Linked DNA regions of Homo sapiens: regions 2 and 3 are each reported to be linked to region 1. Evidence: microRNA targets listed by miRTarBase, many of them from high-throughput screens and not tested one by one. Region 1 holds a microRNA gene; each other region holds the end of a gene's coding sequence.
Evidence for each region. The annotated mature microRNA hsa-miR-143-5p reads GGUGCAGUGCUGCAUCUCUGGU and lies in region 1 at 2,516-2,537, opposite strand. An mRNA with a match to its seed (bases 2 to 7 or 8) in the 3' UTR can be bound and repressed. Matches are read on the target gene's strand: a 7mer-m8 pairs with bases 2 to 8, a 7mer-A1 pairs with bases 2 to 7 and ends in A, and an 8mer does both.

Region 2: the mRNA of LYRM4 is a reported target of hsa-miR-143-5p. The part of its 3' UTR that is shown has no 7-base or 8-base seed match.
Region 3: the mRNA of ZNF106 is a reported target of hsa-miR-143-5p. Seed matches in the 3' UTR shown: 7mer-m8 at 1,861-1,867, 7mer-m8 at 2,477-2,483 and 7mer-m8 at 3,867-3,873.

Annotation. Positions count from the first base shown.
Region 1 is chr5:149,424,192-149,431,480 of GRCh38, reverse strand. MIR143 (microRNA 143) reads right to left here and starts at 2,563; the gene lies at 2,458-2,563. CARMN (cardiac mesoderm enhancer-associated non-coding RNA) reads right to left here. Exons shown (of 5, transcript NR_105060.1): 3 at 7,084-7,289; 4 at 2,442-2,598. It overlaps MIR145 (microRNA 145), which reads right to left and starts at 835; the gene lies at 748-835. RefSeq lists enhancers at 201-495, 5,968-7,289.
Region 2 is chr6:5,103,503-5,110,791 of GRCh38, reverse strand. LYRM4 (LYR motif containing 4) reads left to right here. Exons shown (of 3, transcript NM_020408.6): 3 at 1,301-2,373. The coding sequence ends at 1,369. The region is part of intron 3 of LYRM4-AS1 (LYRM4 antisense RNA 1); the gene reads right to left. Among named protein-coding and RNA genes, the nearest start is that of PPP1R3G, 22 kb to the right of the region's middle.
Region 3 is chr15:42,410,656-42,417,655 of GRCh38, reverse strand. ZNF106 (zinc finger protein 106) reads left to right here. Exons shown (of 22, transcript NM_001366845.3): 22 at 296-4,833. The coding sequence ends at 352. It overlaps CAPN3 (calpain 3), which reads right to left. Exons shown (of 24, transcript NM_000070.3): 21 at 6,990-7,000; 22 at 6,656-6,772; 23 at 6,311-6,369; 24 at 5,339-5,909. The coding sequence ends at 5,883. Among named protein-coding and RNA genes, the nearest start is that of CAPN3, 55 kb to the right of the region's middle.

The sequences.
Region 1 (7,289 bases):
ATGAACCAGCCTGTGGAAGTAAATGAGAGGAAGTGATGGGGGCATTGCTGGTGGTGCAACAATGGAGAGGGTTTCAGTAGTCACTGGCTCAAAAGTGAGGGGGCAAAAGGAACCTCAGTGTGTGTGTGTGTGTGTGTGTGTGTGTGTGTGTGTCCAACGTCTTGTAGCAAGGTTAGCAATCACCATGTGTAGGGGAAGAGCCATAGTGTTCCTAGGGTGGGTAGAGATGCCACAAGAGGGCGTTCTGAGTTTTCATCTTCTCTACCTTGAAAAATTTTCCATTTGTTCTCTGGCTGCATTCCAAATCGAACGAAGACTTAAGGTTTTTAGTTTACCTAACTGATTGAATACACTTTTAAAATGAATTCATGTGTGTTTACTAGTTTATCAGTCATGTGGATGCAATACCGCAGCCCCTGTCGCAAGGCGCGTTGGGAAGTGGGTTGAGGGTGTGGTGGAGACAAGAAACGCATGCCTGATGGTGTCCTGGTTCAACCGCTGCTCAGCCGGGTGGCCTTGGACAAATTTCCCAAGAGTACGGCAGTGCTGAAGTTCCCACATCCAGCCTCACAGGGATGTTATGAAATAGACACGATGGAAAGAAAAGCAACGCAAAGGTTTGGAACATGGTTCATAAGCCCTCTTACCTCCAGGGACAGCCTTCTTCTTGAACCCTCATCCTGTGAGCCAGCCGAGGCCCCATTGGGGGGCAACTGTGGGGTGGGAAGGAGGCAAATCCAGCTGTGAAACCATGACCTCAAGAACAGTATTTCCAGGAATCCCCATCTTAGCATCTAAGGGATTCCTGGGAAAACTGGACCGTGAGGACAAGGTGGGAGCGAGTGGCCTTCAGCGCCAAGGCCGCCGTGTCCCTAAGGACCAGCTGGAGTTCTCTTCTGCATCCAGCCCCATCTGTAGCAGCCAGGGTGGGGTGCCACACGTCGCCGGATGTGGCTTATTGCTCTGGGGGGGAGTAGTGACCGGAACTTCAATTGCCCTGAAAAGTACCGGAAACCCTCTGGCGCCCCCACCCCCAGGACTGCCCTCTGCTGTCTGCACGGCTCATGTGTATTCCCCAGTCTCCTGCCAGAGGGGTGGATTTAAACCAACCATTCAGTTCCTAGCCTGGGTTTGGCAACTTCCTCTCTGATAACCTCCAGTAAGTCACTTAACCCCTGAGCCTTGGCCTTCTTTAATTATAAAATGCATGAGTCCACGACCTACTGGAGAGGTGAGATGAATAAGATTGGGGGAAGGGGGTAGGAGGAAGGAAGCCTGTAGTATTAATGGCAAGTGTCCGGGTCTGTCTTTGCTAAAAGTGACCTGAGATGTAAAGACAAGATGGGAGCAGAATTTAGAATGTTCTCCTCCTGCTCCTCGGTCCCAGGTTCCATAATCACATGCAATGGGTAAAAACATGGATTTGAAGGCAGATTAGGGTACAATCTCAGCTCAGCACAATCAATATGTGACTTTAGGTGAGCTGCTTAAATAAGCCTCAGTTTTTCTCATCTGTAAAATGGGGCTATAACACCACCCACTTCCCAAGCTTTTGGGGAGGTTAAATGAGACTGTGCTTGGCTCCATGGCTCTCCTCTGCTGCTCATTGTGCTTCTGAAGCCTCTGGGAGAAGTCAGACATTTGTGACGTGCCTGGACTGGTTTCGGCAATACCCCGGAGCCAAGGTTAGAAGTACAGAGTGAAGACCCTGACTCAAAGGCCAGAATTTTTATCTTCAGGGCTGAAAGGGTTTTTAGGAATTGTTTGATCCACAAATGATGAATGAGTTTCAGCTGTGAATCAGTACTAGTGGCTTTCCAGGGCTCATTGTTGAGGATTCTGAAGCTGCATCTGAGCACTTCAAGAATGGATGCCTGGCGGGGCGTGGAGGCTCATGCCTGTAATCCCAGCACTTTGGGAGGCCGAGGCGGGCAGATCACCTGAAGTCAGGAGTTTGAGACCAGCCTGGCCAACATAGTGAAACCCCATCTCTACTAAAAATACAAAAATTAGCCAGGTGTGGTGGCGCACACCTGTAATCTCAGCTACTTGGGAGGCTGAGGCACGAGAATTGCTTGACCCTGGGAGGAGGAGGTTGCAGTGAGCTGAGATTATGCCACTGCACTCCAGCCTGGGTGATGGAGTGAGACTGTGTCTCAAAAAAAAAAGAATATATGCCTTTACTGATTAGCTGTGTCTGCCATGGGCTCAGAAAGAGAAAGCAGAGGCAGGGTGCTGGGGAAATGCTAACGCCTCATGCTAAGATGGACACACTGGGGTACACAGAGGAGTCAGGACATGCCCAGACTCGTGAAGCAGATCGTGGCACCAGGGGAACTTGTGTAGAGGAACTTCCCCAGCATCACAAGTGGCTGATAGTATGGAGTCTGGAAACACTCTGTCCTTCCTGTTATGGCCCCCCACAACCCCCCAGCACTTACCACTTCCAGGCTGATGGCTGCAGAACAACTTCTCTCTTCCTGAGCTACAGTGCTTCATCTCAGACTCCCAACTGACCAGAGATGCAGCACTGCACCTCAGGCTGGGAGACAGGGCGCTGCGCTGCTCCGCTCTGGTGGCCTGTGGCGGGACTCCAACCTGGCCAGGAGAAGGGGTGTTAGAGGGGACCTGGGCTCCACCTCTCCAGCTCTGGCCGGGAGGCTGTTGTAATTCCTCACAACTGTGTTTCCTGTCTGTGGCCTGCCATTTGAGCACCCAGGACCAAACCTTGACCTTTTTTCTCTTCTTTTCTTTGTTTCTTTCCTTTTCTTGTCAAGAACAGCTTAATTTAGAAGGAGGACATTTAGTGAGTACAATTAACAGGTTTTTAATATATTCACAAAGTTGTGCAAACAATGGCACAATATATTTTAGGTTATTTCACCATCCAAAAAAGAAGCTCCTTATCCTTAGACAACCCCTAGTCCTGGGCAGACCAGTTTCTATCTCTATAGATCTGTCTATATATTTTCTGGATATTTCAATACATGGAATTATTTAATATGTTGACCTACCTTTTGATGCCATGCCCCACCTTTATGCTTGGCGCATTCCAGCCTAACAGCATCATTCATGGTACTTAACATTTTATATCATCGAGCAATCAATTGTCTCCAACCTATCTTTCTTCTGCCACTCCTCCTCTCTTCCCAGCCATCTTCCCATAATGATTTTTCAAGATGCAAATATGCTCATATCTTACTCAAGTTTAATATCCCAAAAGGGCTCCCCATTGCCCTCAGGCTGAATTCTGAAGCCCTTCCCAAAGCCTGCGAGGGTCTGCCGCATCTAGCCCCAGTGACCTCTTCCTCTTGGGCTACAGCTCATAGATGTCCTTCCATTCTCCTAGGGAGCCCTGTGCCCACCCACTTCGGGCTCCCAGGGACTGTGCTGCTCCCCGTCACTCTCCCTGCCCATCTCTTCCTCCTGTGCTAGGTCTCTAATCAAGTGGCCACTCTGGGAAACCCTCCTTGACTTTTTTTTTTTTTTGAGACAGAGTCTCCCTCTGTCGCCCAGGCTGGAGTGCAGTGACACGATCTCGGCTCACTGCAAACTCCACCTTCCGGGTTAAAGCAATTCTCATGCCCCAGCCTCCCAAGTAGCTGGGACTACAGGCGTGCACCACCATGCCTGGCTAATTTTTGTATTTTTAGTAGAGACAGGGTTTCACCACGTTGCCCAGGCTGGTCTAGAACTCCTGACCTCAGGTGATCCACCCGCCTTGGTCTCCCAAAGTGCTGGGATTATAGGCATGAACCACAGTGCCCAGCCCCTCCTTTACTTCTTTAGCCATCAGCACCCCCTGCTTCATGTTCTCGCCCACCCGGTGCCCTCTTTCTAACCCTTTACCATGCTGGTAATGTGGTTTTCACTTACGACCACCTCCACTTGTGGACTACATGGCTCACCTGTGAAGGGAAGGGACCCTGTCAACTGTGCTCACTACTGAAATCAGGGCCAGGTGGTGTAGATGCCACATAAGCCCAGGTTGAATGGCTGAATCATAATTCCCAATCTCATTATCTCTAGTATCAGTGTTATTTGTGTGTGGGTCTGACCTGGCTAGATCTCCACTTCCTGAGGACAGTGCCTGTGTCTTGTTAATTTGGGGGGCCCTGGGTCTGACCTGTGGCTTGGTACATGATGATGGACCTAGGTAATGCCATTTGGTGGCTGATTGGATGACCATGTAGATAATTCATTTTGTTTTCTGGGCCCGGCTTGGGTGGGAACTTTCAGGTGAGCAGGCAAAGCCCCTTCTCACTCTTCCTGCCCTGCCAAGATCTCAGGGCACCCCAGAGGACCTTCTTGCATTGCTTAGTGGTCACTGTGGTGGCCTTGATGTTGGATGACATATATTTTCAGGAATGTCTGAAGGGGATGGGTAGCCTTTCTTCAGGGCTGAGAGAGAACAGAAAAAATATACCTCCTTAAAAAAACAAAAACAGAGCTGGGAGCAGTGCTCATGCCTGTAATCCTAGCACTTTGGGAGGCTCAGGCAGGAGGATCGCTTGAGCCTAGAGTTCAAGATCAGCCTGGGCAACATGGGGAGCCCTTGTCTCTAATAAAAAAAAAAAAAAAGGCTGGGAGCAGTGGCTTACACCTGTAATCCCAACCCTTTGGGAGGCCAAGGTAGGCGGATCACCTGAGGTTGGGAGTTCGAGACCAGCCCGGCCAACATGGTGAAACCCTGTCTCTACTAAAAATACAAAAATTAGCCAGGCGTGGTGGCGGGAGCCTGTAATCCCAGCTACCTGGGAGGCTGAGGCAGGAGAATGGTTTGAACCCGGGGAGGTGGAGGTTGCAGTGAGCCGAGATCTTGCCATTGCACTCCAGCCTGGGTGACAGAGTGAGACTCCGTCTCAAAAAAAAAAAAAAAAGTCTGTCTCTTACACTCAGTCTGGGAAGAGTGGAAAGAGTGTTTCCCTCTGGTCTATCATGCCAGCAGGCAGGTCAGTAGGTCAGTTCTGACAGCCTGTGTAGAGGACAGCCTCTGTCTAAGGTATTCCCAGCCAGATAACTGCTTTCCTCTTCTGTGGAATTATCTTGCAGAAACTCTTTTCAACTGCATTTGGTGGCTGGGCACAGTGGCTCACGCCTGTAATCCTGAGCACTTTGGGAAGCCGAGGCAGGTGGATCGCTTGAGCCCAGGAGTTCAAGACCAGCCTGGGCAACACGATGAAATCCTGTCTCTATCCAAAAATACGAAAAATTAGCCAGTCTCATAGCCTGGTCTCTACATAAATAAATAAATAGATTTTTTAAAACCGTGCATTTGGCTGGGGAGTGATTCCGACATTGGACTCCCTCGCAGGTCACAGACAGCTGGTCTATTCCACTCTCCACGGCTCCCACTGCCCCTGAGAGAGAAGAGCTTAGTGTGGTCAGCAAAGAGATTTCAATAAGAATCAGGGAGGGTTATCCTGGAAAAGAGATGATTTGCTGCTGAGAACTAAGCTGACAAGGTGTGTCCTCTGCCTTCACTTGGTGCGTGATTATTTCCAAAGCCCTTTCACATAAACTACCTTTGGCTTCTCACGTGCAGCTGGTGGGTAAGTGGTTTTGGGGAGTTTGTAGTCTCTGCTGGGAGACAGGACACAACAGAATGGAAAGCGAATTGACAGGGAGCATTCTGTTGTGGAATGGATCAGTTGCTCCCTGTGAATTTGCTTTCAGTCCTATTTACCGTGGGGTACAAAGCCTCAGTTTGCTGCTATCATGTCTTTGACACCTTTCTAACTCTCACTTATTGCCCAGGCTTCAGGCCCAGGGCCTTGCAAGCCACACTATCAGGTTAAACCATAATAACATTGTTTCATTTTTACTGTATTTATGGTTACCTTTATTTCCTAATTAGGCACAGTGTTAGAGTTTGCTATTTACAGTAGCTATTTCTATGTGTAATAAAAAGGACTCATCCTACATTTAAAAATATTATAATCATTTGCAGACATGGAAGAAATAAAATAGGGGGCATCTGAATGACTGAGTTTGGAAAACAGAGTCCGATACCATTTAATCATCAGAATGGCTGGTGCTGCTGGCAAGGGAATGTTATTGCTCCTACATGGAGGACCAGGAAGGGGATTGTTCCAGGGTCACAGGGCCTGAGCTTGGACCAGAGGAGTTGAAGACCATTTCCACCAAGGCCATTTCCATTCCAAGATGTAGGCTAAGATTATTGCAGCAAAGATAGCATCTCCCCTAGGTTTAGAAACGAGAACTAGATGGGAGGTAGTCCCATGCTTCTGAAGGAGAAACTGATGCAGGGAGAAGGGCTGAGGCACAGCCTCTGACCAGGGGAAGGTGTTTGCCTCCATCTCCTCTGTGGCCCTTGAATCTGCTTGCCCCTTGCTGTTGGTGCCTCGTTCTGTTCCTTTGTGTCTGGAATAATCATCGTGATAATGAATGTAATAAGCACAATCATTTGTGGAATTTTATAGTCCTGGATATTGAATGTTTTCTTTGTGCAAGTCCTTGTGCATCCACAAAGCTCCATGGGAAGGGAATTTTCCAAGGGTACAGAGCTGAGAACTGAGCTGGGGTTCCTAACCCAGGGCCCTCGTTTTAACCTCTACGCTGAATGTCTCATGCCCTGTCCAATTGGCCAGGCCTTGGTTTGGGGGCAGGGTCTAATCATTTCACCTGTCCCTTCAGCGCACTGCCTCTTCTATGTGCCAAGGGGAAGTGGGACTGAGAGCCTCGCTGTCCTTGACCTGGAGGACCTCGGTCAGATTGAGTAGAAGGAAAATTCCCCTCACAAGGTGAATAGGGGGCAGACTCAAGTGGGATGAGGAGAGAGAGAGAGAGAGAGCCCAAGAAAGGACAGCCAAGCACACCTGGAGGACAAAAAGGTTCCCACCCCTGGGGAAGCTGAGAAGGCTTCCTGGAGGAGGAGTCAGTGCAGCTGGGCTATGAGGAGGGGCAGAGGGGCCGGGAGGGAGGTGCTTCTCCTGGCTCCAGCAGCTCTTCCCTTGAGTCTTGCATACTTAGCACTTGTCCCAACCCCTGCCTCCTTCACATGAGGGCCTTACTGAGAAGAGGGGTCTATGGCCACCCCCCACCCCGCCCCATTCCACTTACCCCACCAAAGGCTCCCTCCTACTCTGGATCCCCAGTCAGGATGAGAGACACCGCTTGGGGGTCCCAGGTTCCACTTCTTAACGAGGCCCTTCTTTCTGTGGCTGCTTCCCCTTCTGTGAAAGGTGATGTTGAACCAGGTGGCCTCAGTTTTACCTGGCGGCTCTGGGTGCCGGCTCCCGGCAGTGTGGGGGACAGCTCCTGGGTGG
Region 2 (7,289 bases), not on the chromosome of region 1:
CGACTGAAGACACAGTAGCAAAGCTCATCACTGTGACTTGTTAGGAGCACTCATTCTCTACACCCCCTTCCCATAACTCCTACCTACCTCTTTTGGTTTTTAATTAGGACATTCACTTGCATTTAAAAATACCTGCAAGATCCCCCCATCCCCCATATCTCCACTGTCTACTTCTCGTTCTTCTTAGATGACGTGCTGCTCTCGCCTCTTCCTTCGCTTTCTCTTGCACCGCAACACTTAGTTATTATCCATGCCACGGACCTTCAAGATACCTCTGTGCAAGGGCAGACTGAAGACCGAGCAAATGGCATGGAAAACAGGACACCTCAGATGGACGGCGCGGCGGTCCTTGGTGACAGAGCACTGCTCTTTAACACATGCTGTAGTAATGACATGATCGCCTTCTGTCCGGGGCCTTCACTTCGAAATAGAGCACTAAGATCGGGGAGGAAAACCATGAGGATGTTGACCCCTGGCTGCTCTGTTTGCTTAAACAGCAGTTACTCACCCCGAATTACCCATAGATAGTGACCAACTGGTCTGAAATCCAGATAGAGTTGCTAATGATCAGCCCTTCCTTCACCCATTCCACTTGTTCTTAAAAATGTATCACTCAGGAAATGCTTTACAGAAAAACTGTGGCAAGACCCTTTGTTGCAGAGGAAAGACCTGCTCTAGCCCCAGAGGATGGCTCCAGCATCCACCTGGGACAGTGGAAACATTGGGCATTAAGACACTTAATAAAAAGGACACTTTAAAAAGAAGGGGGCAGGAAAGATAGAAGGCAGGAGGTGCAGGCACTCAGACAACTGCCCTCGACCCCACCCGGGATGGGCCACGGACAGGTGTCTGCATTGCCCTGAATGCAGCGCTTTTCCTACCCCAGCATAGACGGCGCCCATTTCTGCACTGTTCTAAAACCCCTTCCCTATGCGAGAATCAGTTCTAAGGGAAGGAAGCCCTCTTAGGAGAGGAGGTACTGGGCACACATCTGACAGCTCTGCCACCAGCAGGCAGGCGTCACCCAGCTCAGCACAGCCCCGAGTCCCAGGCTGCAGCCTCCTGTGCTGTTTCAGAGGGGAGGAATGGGTGTGTGGATCTCTGTAACTTCTCACAGTGAGGGAAACGGGGGTTGGATGGTGCTCTAGTGGCCGGCTTTGCCCCGCAGTGCAGTTGCCGGAAGGGAGCAGCCCTGGGATGGCCGACGTTTGTATTAGAAATGTTAGGAAATGTTCCTTCTGGCCTTTCCCAGGGGCTAGAGGGCCACGGTTCCTGACCTGTGTCCTTTCTTTGCCTTCAGGTCCACATTGGCCAACTGTATTCAACTGACAAGCTGATCATTGAGAATCGAGACATGCCCAGGACCTAGCAAGCCGGGGACCAGCCACCAGTGGCGGCCAGGGACCACCTTCAGCATCCACTCTCTGTTTGAGATGGGGGCTCCCAAAACCAGCTTACAATAGCCTTTTGCGCTGCCTGTCCTGTGGGAGCTGATAAACCAAGTCACATTTGCATTCTGTTGCAGGCTTAGTGAAAAAGGACTGCTGTCTTTCCTTGGTTCAAGTGTTAGAATGGAGAGCTGGAGTTCGTTCAGAATAGTGCTGTGTGTTACCACGTCTCCCCTGCACCCCATTCCTACCTTGTAGCTCATGACCATTGTGTATAGCATTTCTACACTTTGTTTCTTGGTCCTTGGCAATAAAAAGAATGATCTCCCTGAGCCTTTGACCCCAGATAAACCCCTCCCAATTAATGCATTTTCATTTCCTACTGATACAAGGCCTGGAGAGGGCTGTTGGGGGCCCTCAGGGAGGGTTCAACTCTGAGACGAGAACTGCCTTGGTGAAGGCAAGTTCAAGCACCACTTGAGACTGGGGGCAGCATGGAGTAGGGCAGGGCTACGGGGATACACGGTGCACCCTGCAACTTATACCTGAGCCCAGTACAACAAAGGTGACGGGTGTGTAGGTACACACCCAGAGATGGAGCACTGCAGATCAGCAACCTCAGCCCCACCTGGGAATTTGCTGGAAATGCAGGCTCAAGCCCCTCCCCACACCTGGTGAATGAGAGAGCCCCAGCCTGACCCAAGCCCAGGGCGACTCCCATACCCTGAAGCCTGGGGCATGCTGGGCAGCACCGGTGCCCAAATCTGGCTGGTGGACAGAAGCACCTGGAGAGTTGGAGAGCTTTTTAAAAAGACATCTCTCAGCACTTCCCTCTCTGCAGATTCTGACTCAGTAAGTGAGGGGTGAGGCACAGTCATTTTTCTCTATTCTGAAGCTCTCCCACTGTTTTCAATGTTTAACCAACTGGGGACCCCTGCTCTTTAAGTATATTACAGGTAATAAAGATATTGTTTGTATGCTTTTATTCTTGGAAACAGATTCATTCCAAACATAGAAAGAACATATTAAATAACTTGCTTGTCATCTGGGGAGTTTACGAGGGACCAGACCTGGCAGAGCGGTTTCTTGTTTCCCTTTGCATACAGTGCTCAGTGGATTTGGTATCTGTGGGTTAAGGTTTGGAACAGGCTCCTATAAATAGCACCGGTCCTGGAATAGCTGCAGCACTGTCACCCCCTCATTTTAACTCCGACGGTCATGGGAGTGAGTACGCACTGTCTGAGCCCGTGTTCTTCTCACCCTCATATGAGAACTCATGTCTTCCAGTCGCTTTTAGAGAGCATAGATTTGCTGCAATGATGCGTTCAAATAGATGTAACGTGTAGCCATTCTATTTGGCAGTACAACTTTTGATTTCAGGATAAAGTCTTTTTTTTTGAGATGGAGTCTCGCTCTGTCACCCAGGCTGGAGTGCAGCGGTGCGATCTTGGCTCACTGCAACCTCCACCTCCTGGGTTCAAGCCATTCTCCTGCCTCAGCCTCCCGAGTAGCTGGGATTACAGGGGCCTGCCACCACGCCCAGCTAATTTTTTGTATTTTTAATAGAGACGGGGTTTCACTATGTTGGCCAGGCTGGTCTTGAACTCCTCGGCCCCCCAAAGTGCTGGTATTACAGGCATGAACCACCACCCCCTGCCAATTTCAGGATAAAGTCCTGAGCATCTGTGAAAATAATGAAGCTCTTAGCAAGTCCCAGATCTCTTACCCTCTAACCAGTTCCTGCCTGGGAGCTGCAGTGTTAGAGCATATGCAAAGCCCTAATTGGGGGAGAGCTGTTCGGTGGACAGTGAACGGAGGTGATGTGGCAAGTATAATCACTCCCTTCAGCTGACTGTCACGGGGCAGAGCCGCCCAGCCCAGCCCTGTGTGTGGCTCTGGCTCAGGTTTTCCACCTTGCATCAGTGCAGTGGAGTTCGTGGTCACTCAGCAGTGAATGCATCCAACCACGCTACTAACGCACGGCACTGCTGATTTATACTTAATTTAAGCAACTGCTACTTGGAACCGAAGTCCAGATTTGAACCTCCGTGCTGAAGGCATCAAATTGCCGGCAAGATAACAGCTCCAGAGGAGACTTCTCCCACTCCCCCAGGTTTTACGCAATGAGGCAGTCCACCCAAACTTAACGTGGGCTGCAGGCTGTAACAGCAGGTTGCTTTTGTGTTCATTAAACTGCATGAATGGGTTTGAACATGCCCAAAGCCTTGCTAATGCAGACTTAATTTTGTAAAATTAACTATGCCTTTGGAATCTGCAGAAAGATACAAATCCGAATTCTGTGGCAGGAAACGCCACAAACAGGCCTTGGTCCTCCACCTTTCAGGTGTATATCTGGCAGGCAGAGCCTGGCACTGGGTACTCCCCAACTGAGATGACCCAATATTGATGCTAGAGCTTCGAATAAAGTGGCATTCCCATGGGGGTGACCCCTGGTGTTTCTCTAGGGAAGTATTCCACCTCCTTGACTATGCACCAACTGAGGGGAATGTGGGCAACTCCAACATCCATCATGGCCAGCCTCACAGAACTCTCTAGAACTTGTGCCTGCTTTGAAGATAGGATCCGGGCTGGGGTCTGGAGATCACTTTGCAGCACTAATATTGAGCAAATGAGAACTACTATCATTAGTTAACTTCCCAGGCAGAACTCATTGGCCGAGCAAGGCTATATCCTAGACTTTCAGAGACAGCTCTGGGCTGGGCTGGCTGTCATGACATAATAGCTGGGAGATCTTGCACGGCCAAGTACAGGGCTGTGTTGTTCTGATGGCTGTTGGAATCTGGATTTTGGAACTGAAAGAATTGGCTAGATTGCTTTAGGTATACTCCGTCCTGCTGCTAACTAAGTAGCAGTGACCTTTAACTCCCTTCATCCACAGCCTCTCCCGTTAATCTCAAGCCCCACCATACAACCCACCATCATCCAGGAGCAAAAGGGACAGGCAGAGGGTGAAGCCTACAAAGATGACAAACATCAGAGCTCACCTAGTCCAACCCTCAAATCTTCAGGTGTTAAAACAAAGAGCCTGAACATCTGCAGATCACGTACAGAGTCAGGGCCTTTCCCCTAAACCCCTTTCACTCATTCATTTATTCACTCAGTATTGACTAAGGCCACCTAGTGCCAGGTGCCAGGTGCCAGGGAGCAACCAGTGAACAAGACAGACGTACCTTCATAAAGCCTGTGTCTAGCAGGGAAATCTGAGAAGAAAATGACAAGTCTTATGAATGTTACAAAGAGGGAAATATGAGTGCTGCCAGAGCCGATGGGACGGGCCAGGGAAGGGCTCCCCAGGGGATATTTACACGTGCAAATTAATGATGAGGATTGGCTGTGTGAAGGTGGGGAGAGGAGCTCTCTAGGCAGGAGGAACAGCACATGCAAAGCCCTTAATTGGGGGAGAGGGTAGTTCCATGCAAAGAACTAAAGGGAGTCTGGGATGGTGGCAGCCAAGGAAGAGGGCTCTTTCCACATCGTGGACGGCCTTGGAGCCTCAGCCTAAGGATGGTGAGCAACTCGGGAGTTTTTAGGCAAGATGAGGTTTTTGTTTTGTTTTGTTTTGTTTTTTTGAGACAGAGTCTCGCTCTGTTGCCCAGGCTGGAGTGCAGTGGCATAATCTCAGCTCACTACAACCTCTGCCTCCCGGGTTCAAGCAATTCTCCTGCCTCAGCCTCCTGAGTAGCTGGGACTACAGGCGCACGCCACCATGCCCAGCTAAGTTTTATATTTTTTAGTAGACACAGGATTTCGCCATGTTGGCCAGGCTGCTCTTGAACTCCTGACCCCAGATGATCCGCCTGCCTCGGCCTCCCAAAGTGCTGGGATTACAGGCGTGAGCCACCGCCCCCGACCGAAGTTTGTATTTTTTAAAAGGTCACATTGTCTGCTTTTGAGGGGATACACTGGGAGAGATGCAGGGAGACCAGCTTTTCGGAGGAGTGGGGGATTGGGTGTGGCATTCCAGGCAAGCGATGGTGACTTCACCAAGAGGCAACAGCTGAACAGAAGCAGAGTCAGCATCACCCTGAGAACTGGCTGGGGTGGGCCGCCATTGAAGGAGGACAGGAAACCTGGAGCAGAGCTGCCCCAGCTGAGCACAGCCCGAGCTCCCCAGCCCACCTGCCGATGCGCGAGAAAGTCCACAGAGTCCCCTAGCCTGGTCTAGCTTAGGTCAGTCATATTCAGCCACCCCTCAGACATGTGCTAAATAATTAACTGTTACATTAGTCACTGAGTTTGGAGGTAGATTATTATGAAGTAACAGCAAACTAATACAGAGAGCATCTCTGTATTAATGTATTAATGTATTACTTTCTCAGGGCCACATAGCAAACCAAAGAGTAGGCAGACAAACGGCCAAAACTGCAGGTCTCCTGTATGGGGACATTTCCACAAATATCTTCAGAATACTGGTCACTCCCTTTAGAGAACAAGTCCTGGAGAAACAGTCGAAACAGTCATCACGTGTCCTACAGATGGAAGGGCTGGCCAACCAGAAAGAAAAGAAAAAGTCGAGTCAGCAGAACTTGGTGATTGATTGGATGAGGAGACCAGGCCTGAGGGCTGCAGGGAGTCTAGGAGGAGTCTCAGGAGCAGGGCCTGAGGAACTAAGAAGGGGCTCTGGCTGAGACCAGACAGGAGCAGCCACTGTCTGGAATTTTGTCCCCACTGCTGACTTCGAACAACCTCAACTTCAAACAGAAAGCCCAGACTCGATGAATTTATCTTTTCTTCAAAGTAGAGAAAGGGTAGCTCTTTTCTTCCCAGGAAATTGTTTATCCATTTAATAATTTTTAAAAATCACTGGAGTTGGGTGTGGTGGCTCATACCTGGTAATCTCAGCACTTTGAGAGGCCGAAGTGGGCAGATCACTTGAGCTCAGGAGTTCGAGACCAGCCTGGGCAACATAGTGAAACCCTGTCTATACAGAAAATACAAAAATTAGCTGGGTGTGGTGGCATGCAACTGTTGTCCTAGCTACTCTGGAGCCTGAGGTGGGAGGATCACTTGAGCCTGGAAGGCGGAGGTTGCAGTGAGCCATGATCGCACCACTGCACTCCAGCCTGGATGACAGAGTGATACCCTGTCTAAAAAAAAAAAAATAACTGGGATAAAACAACTCGAAAGACCCTTATAAAGATTTTACCCGTAACTCTGTAGAGCAAATAACTTCCTGCTTTAGGCAAAGCTCTTTGTGTGTAAGTTCGATTGGAAGAGGAGGGCTGGTGGGGGGAGATTCTCTACTTTGGTCATGAGATTAACATTAAAAGTTTGAGGAAGGTTGCTCTATATATTGGCTGCCTGTTTCTAAGACTGAAAATAAAAGCACAGTAAAATATCAACAAGTATACAGAAAATATACATTTGTAGAAAATTAGCTTTTTTTTTTTTTTTTGCTAAGTACTTCATATAAACTAGTATTTGCTTTCTAGATTAAAGAATATCTCCTCCAGGTGTGGTGGCTCACACCTGTAATCCCAGCACTTTGGGAAGCCGAGGTGGATGGACCACGATGTCAGGAGTTCAAGACCAGCCTGGCCAACATGGTGAAACCCCATCTCTCCTAAAGATACAAAAAAAATTAGCCAGGCGTGGCAGTGGGCGCCTGTAATCCCAGCTACTCAGGAGACTGAGGCAGAGAATTGCTTGAAGCCAGAGGCAGAGGTTGCAATGAGCCGGGATCACGCCACTGAACTCCAGCCTGGGTGACAGAGTGAGACTCTTGTCTCAAAAAAAAAAAAAAAAAAAAAAATATCTCAGATATTGAAGCGAACCTATAAATAACAGCAGAAGCTGAAGAAAAGATAACGGATCAAAAAGCAGAAGGAGAAAGCTTCCCTGTCCCCAAGGACCTGCCCACAGTCGTGGATGAGAAGTCCC
Region 3 (7,000 bases), not on the chromosome of region 1:
AATGAAGTTGCAAATGAAGAATTAGGTCATTTTTGAGAAAGGGCCTAAAGAGAATGTTTTCAGATGTTTCAAATCCAGTAACTGAACCTGGAGATTTATTACAGTGCTCTTGTGCTGAGACAACAGCTCACCTTTAAGTACATGGTTTCACGTAAGTTAGCAAAGTGCTGGCTCCTAACTGCCTTTCCTGTCTGGATCCTAGGTGGAATGGACCCACATGGCTTTCCTTGGCTTTGACTTTCTCCTGTCTTACTATCGACTTCTCTCTCATGGGCCCTTTTCCCTTCATTCCTAGGATGCTGCAGGACATATTGAACGACATGCTGAAGATGACAGCAAAATTGATTCATGAAGTTTTTTGCCTCCCACGTTGGGAAGTCATTAGTTGAACTATTTTCACATTGGCCCCCCACACAGGCCACTCTCTTCCCTTTCTTGGTGAAGTAAGGAAGGAGAAAGTGGTTACTAGCCAGGCATACCCCTAGCATAAGTCTGGGCAGCTCTATGGGATGATAAATTACACTTTTAAGTTCTTGCTGGAGGTTTTAAATAGATTTAGACAAATGTTAAGGAACCATACTTCTCTGGGACAGCATGGCATATAGTGATATATGCTATTTGCGTTCTCCAGATGTTTATTGAAGATACAGATCCTAATTGGTTACCCAGTTTGACCCTAATCATATGTATATTTTATTGATTTCAGTTTGCAATTTTTAATTTATGTTCTTATGATGGTTTAAACCTATAGTCAGGCTTTTAAGTACAAGTTTGTTTAAGTGCCAGACTTTGAGGATCAGTTTTAATTTCTCCATTTGTAATAGCTGGGTATTTAAACTGGAAGCAAATAGTTTTCTTTCTTAACAATTATGTGCAGTGTGTGTCACTGTTTTCTTGCTTTATAGATAGAGCTGGCTTTAAGTGCTAAAGGACACAGTAGATTTTTGACAAACAGTGGCTGCTCTGCTGACTATCTTTTAGGAATTCAGGAAGCAAATCACATAGTGACAAGTCCTTACAGACACCACTTCTAGTAAATCTCTGTAAATGTGGATAGAAAGCTCAGTGTGAGGCAGTGCGTAGACCTAACGTCTACCTTTACATCTGCTGTTGAACCTGGGCACTACCTGTTACAGATCCTGTCAGGCTGTTGAACTGGAGGTGTACCTTTATCTTCCTTTCTAGTGTCTGACCCTGCAAGCCTAATGTTGGTTTGAACCCTTTTGGTTTGTTCAGTTGCCAGCCTCCATCTCTCCCACTGTATGGCCGTGCCTAGACCGATGGCAGCCATCGAATATTCCTCTGGGCTCACGGGGTGTTTTCCACCCCCCTGCAGCAACTAAGATGGTGGGGGAGAGGGGGTTAGAATAAAGCATCTGAATACAGTTTTCAGGACCTCAAGCAGACTTCCTAGAGACTTGTTTCTGAGACAGTTCTTTGCCTTCACTTCCCTGCTAGCTGGGAAAGAAGAGTGGAGCAGAGACTCTGCCTGGCCACTGAGAACAGCCAAATTCACAAACCCTCAGTGGGGCTTTGTTTTTGGATTTTCTCCGGACTCATCAGTAAACCTGTAGAAGTGTCGCTTTCCAGCCTTTTGTTTCTGGATCCTCAAAACTCAGAACGTGGCCGGGCGTGGTGGCTCACGCCTGTAATCCCAGCACTTTGGGAGGCTGAGGCAGGCAGATCACCTGAGGCTAGGAGTTGCAGACCAGCCTGGCCAACATGGCAAAACCCCGTCTCTACTAAAAATACAAAAAGCCGGGCGTGGTGGGCGCCTGTAATCCCAGCTGCTCAGGAGGCTGAGGCAGGAGAATCGCTTGAACCCGGGAGGCAGAGATTGCAGTAAGCTGAGATCGTGCCACTGCACTCCAGCCTGGTGACAGAGTGAGACTCCGTCTCAAAAAAAAAAAAAAAAACTCAGCTTCTTCAGAGAGATAAAATTGGGGGAGGAGCCCAGGGCCACATACCAAGCTTTGGGACATGGTGCCTCATGCTCTCTGGGATTGCAGACCATCCAGGTCTGTCTTCGCCCCTGTTAGTGCACATATATCCACTCACATGTCTTCCCTCAGGCTATCGGGCAGGGGGACTTCACCAGGGGGTTTATGGATAGGCTTCAAGAGGGTCTGTGAGCCCCCAGAAATTGTGTGTGAGACTGAGTATGTGTTCTTTTTTCCAGGAAAGGCTCCAGTGGTTCTTACTTGATCCAAAAAATGTCAAGAATTAATCTAGGAGGCCGGGCCTGGTGGCTCACACCTGTAATCCCAGCTCTTTGGGAGGCCGAGGCGGGTGGATCACTCAAGGTCAGGCATTTGAGACCAGCCTGGCCAACATAGTGAAACCCCGTCTCTATTAAAAATACAAAAATTAGCTGGGTGTGGTGGTATGTGCCTGTAGTCTCAGCTACTCAGGAGGCTGAGACAGGAGAATCACTTGAACCCTGGAGGTAGAAGTTGCAGTGAGCCAAGATCATACTACTGCACTCCAGCCTGGGCGACAAGAGTGAAACTCCACCTCAAAAAAAAAAAAAAAAGAGTTAATCTAGGAGATAATGAATGGCCTAGTACTAGATAATATATGGCCCCACAAGCTCTTGACTTCTGTCCTTGGGGAAAGCCATTTTGTTAACCACACTAGTGAGATTTACATGATGCTTAATGGAGAACAGAGAAGATCTTGTTGCAAAAGGTGTATTAAATATTTGTGCTGTTTCTGTATGAGATTGAGAAGCTTTTCCCACCTCTCACCCCTATTTCCTATAAGGATATCCAGAGAAGCCAAACTGTTCTGTGGGTTTGGGAATGGTCATTTCCCGGGAAAATGCATCTGGATCGATGACTAAACCTGGCCCTTTTCTCTGGGCTGTAGTGAAGCCGCATTTTCACGCTGGCTGGCAGTGTGCTGAGAGCCTCGAATGCTCTGCGGCGTAGTGCCCTTCTGCCCTGCCTGACGATGTATCGAAAAGATGAGAGTGAAGGAGACTTTGTGCAGCAGGAAACGGGTAGGTGAGGTGTTGGGCAGTTGTGGGAACTTCTGAGAGTATTACAGAGTGGTAGAATCGGTAAGAACTCTGATTTGGACTTCGCTTTGGTGGAACTGTGTGCCTATACCTGCCTGTGTGTGTGCAAGTGTGCAGGTTCCTTTGTATGTATGTGTACGTGTGGGAACCTGTGTTTGTCATATTTTTCTTCATTTCACAAAGGCTTTTTTTGAAGCAGTGGCAGTATGCCTTTGTTTCAAGAACACATGAAATTCTTTTAACACCAGATTAGTGTGTTACCCCAAATGAACGGTTCTAGCCCTCTATTAAGAAATAAAGGGACCATAAGCATTTTGGCTGCTTATGGCTGTGTGTTACTACTTACAAGAGTCTTGAAAATTATACAGAACTTTGCCTTCTTTTTTTAATGTCTTCCACAATGTTGTGACTGATTATAACCCTGTTTCCCCTCAGAGAAGAGCTATGGCTCAGGGATCTGTGTTGACTCTGGCATTTAGTGGCTTTGTGAAGGAAAGAAACCATTAAATGACCTGACAAAAACTGACTCATGTCTTTAAAGTAGTTGAAGCCACTTTTAGAATGTTACTCTCGGTTGCTTTTGTCTAATTCTAATGGCTTAAAGCCAAGAAAACCATAGTATAAATCTTTTTGTGTACCTATGCTAGTGTTTAAATGGCAGTTCGTTGTGATAAAGTATCAGTCACTTCAAGTTTTCTGTGAAAGTTTTTAATTAGGTTAAAAATAATTTTGGCATACGTCTCTACTCAGTTTATAAAGCAGTTCCACACCATGCAAACAAAACTCTAACAGCAAAGGTTATCTTGACCTGATGTTACTTGAATCTGAGAGAAAGTCATTACTTACTACTGCACTCCTGCTTTTGTGGGAAAAATTTTCTTCTTCCCCAGAAGAGTTAACAGTTGAGTGTTCAGCTCCTGACTTACCTTTAATTTAGAGGCAATATTATTACTGTTTAAGTGATTATTTGCTTAACACAGGTTTTATTTTGTCTTTTTGCTGGTAGATTATACAAGGGACAACTTTAGTGATGAGGCATGTGGATGATTTGGTGGGAGTAGGTATATACTTAGTGGAATGGTTTATTTTATGGAAGAGAATTCATTGGAGGTGAGATTGAAGTATATTGTGAAGTGGGATTTGAACAGCACATATGCTCTGGTTTGCTCAAATAACTGCAGTTTATGCTTACATCTAAATTTTGTTTCTGTTACCTAAACGGGAGCTTCTAGAATTACGAAGGCCATACCTGCCACATTTATAAAATAATGGTTTTATCCCTGCCCCCAAATCATCAGGTTCCTCGGGTTTAAGAGAAGTGGTCTAATAGACAGGAATAGAAGTTGTGGTGGAGGTGATTTGGGATAGACTAGGTTTCCTTATGCAAGTGGATATGAGCTCCTCATAGAAACCAGACCTACTGTATTAGACAGTAACCTCTAACCTCACCTCCAAGCCCAAGTATATGGCCCTGCTGGGTTACCTGGTGACTACATTTCCCAGATTCACTCTAAATTCAAGGTAGTGACCCAAATAAATTGGGAAAGGAGGGGGTCAAGGAGGAAAAGCTGTTGAAAATCTTTCTCCTATTTAAGAGAAATATATGCCCTAGAGCTGCTCCAGCACCCTTGGTTTCTGATTTTTTTAATATTGAATATGGATTAGAAGAATGAAATCAGATGACACCTGACTGCAAAAATGTTTATAAGCAAATAGCCTTCTTACATTTTGGTATAAAGCTGTGAACTTCGTAACTTTGTAAAGCAAGATATAAAGCAAATACAAGAGGAAAATAAAGTACTTTTACTAATTGACGGTTTACTTTCGTTACCTTGTCTGCATATTCACGGCCAGCCCTTTCCACGTTGGCTTAGCGAGGAAGAAGGAAACTGGGTGGAAAACACAGGATGCCTATAGATATGCCGCAGGCCATGGTCCAGAGAAGTTTAGCAAACAAACAGCTGCGTTCAGGGTTTTGTCCACGGTCATGCGACAGGTCAGTTAGTGAGCAGAGGAGCTAGGATAGCTCAATCTCCACTCCATTATTCAGGTAACCGGCCCCTCCCGTTGTACATGACCCATTTATTCTTGATGTCTTTTACAGCAACAACTATTCCTCTGCCTTCCTTTTATGTCTTGGAAAGTATCTGAGCCATTCTTATGCTCAAGAAATAGCAATAGGCATGATTACAAAATTCAAGATTTTGTTTTTGTGTGTGTTTTTCATTGTTCTCTTGTAGGTGATAGGTGAGTATATGATTGGAAGCCATTCAGTCATGCATGGCTGATATCTAAATGTGAGACAACAAAACACAAGGGGACCAGCCATACACATGCCTTTATTTAGATCAGCTTTTTTCAAAATGCAGCCAAACTTATGAGTTGGACAGCCCAAAGTAACCAGCCCTATTCCACTGAGTTAGTTTACCCCACAGCAGTAGAACCCAGTGCTGGTTTGGTTCCTGGCCCATGGTGGGACAGCGTGAAGGTGATGGAGGGCTCTAGCACAAGGAGGTGCTGAGTGCCACCGGCAGGTGCTTCTGCAGACAGCCTAGAGCAAGGTAAGCAGGAGCACTCGCTTCAGAACCGAGGCGGCTCGGACCAGAGGCAGGCACTTTCCTCCACATGGCAAAGGGACAAGGGTTTGTTCTTCCTACCTCATTGCTTTACTAAAGGGTCAGGCTAGGCATGACCGATCAAGGATGGGTAGGGGGTAAAATGGAGGAGGAGCATGACTGATGAGGTGCCTGGAAGCCTGTAGGGGTGTAGCTGCTGGGTCCTTTGAGGTAAATGGCTTTGGAAATAGAGGGTGAAACTGAAATCCTGAGTGATCCTGCATGGCTTTGGATGAGGCCAGCCTGGTTCAGGCATACATGGTGAGCTGCAGCCACTGAAAGAAGTCCCAAGATCAGAATGTAGATCAGAAAAGAGTGACCCCCCCCCCCCCCGCCCTAGGAATCTTACGGGGCAAGAGGAAAGGGAACAGTCCCAGCAGGTCAGACCCCCAGAAGATTTTCCAAGAAGCAGTGGCTTACTGTTTCCTTTCTCCTAGATCTTCCCTAAGAAGGTGCATGTTTTCCCGCATCAAGTGACTGGGGGAGCAGAGGTCCTTTTGGGCCTCAAGTGCATGTGTCCTGGGAGCCTGCTGAGCCTCCCTCCATGTTCTGTTCCTATCCCTTCCCTCCACCACTGTGTGGAAATGAGGAGCACACCCTGGGTCCAGTCCGCCCCGTTGACCCCTCCACCTTGAGTTTTAATGTGTAGGGGGAATGTGCTGTGCCTATGCTTTACCTCCAGAACGTTGAGCTTGATGATACCATCTCCATCCTTGTCAAATGCATGAAAAGCTCCTGTGAAAGAATGCACAGGCCAGAGGCCAGTTACAGGCGCACTCCGCCTCTACTACTGTAACTTCCCCTCAGAGGACCATGTGCCCAGTGCTGTCCCTCATCAGCACAAAGATGTGCAGGCAGAGAATCACCAGTAACCCTCCCTTTGCCATCCCATTCTGGGCCTAAAGAGGTCATTGGCCCTTGTTCAGCCTGGATGGAGCAGACTGGAGATTATCAGGTGAGATGCCTGTTGCCACAACTGCCCCTGCAAGAGAGCAGAGGGCAGCCCCCCTCTCCCACTTACTGAACATGCCCTCCAGCCTAACGAAGCAGCAGATGAAACTGTCAAAGTCGATGTTCATGTGTTTGTCTGCGTACCGCATGGTAATGATGTCATAGAGCTGGTTGTTGAGGTGGAATCCTGTGGAGGGGACCATGTTAGAGGTGGACGTGGAGCTGGAGGCCTTGGGCCTGCCTTCTATTTTCCCTGCCTCTCGGCCACTCTGTGACCTGGGAAGGGAAAGTGAGAAGCCCTTTCCCTCTCCTTTCTCTAGTGGGGCCCTAGTAGCCTAGTCCCCTCCCATTCCTGCTCCCACCGTCTCGGGTCCACATCCCTGCCACCCCTTCCTTCTCAGCACCTGCGTCGTTG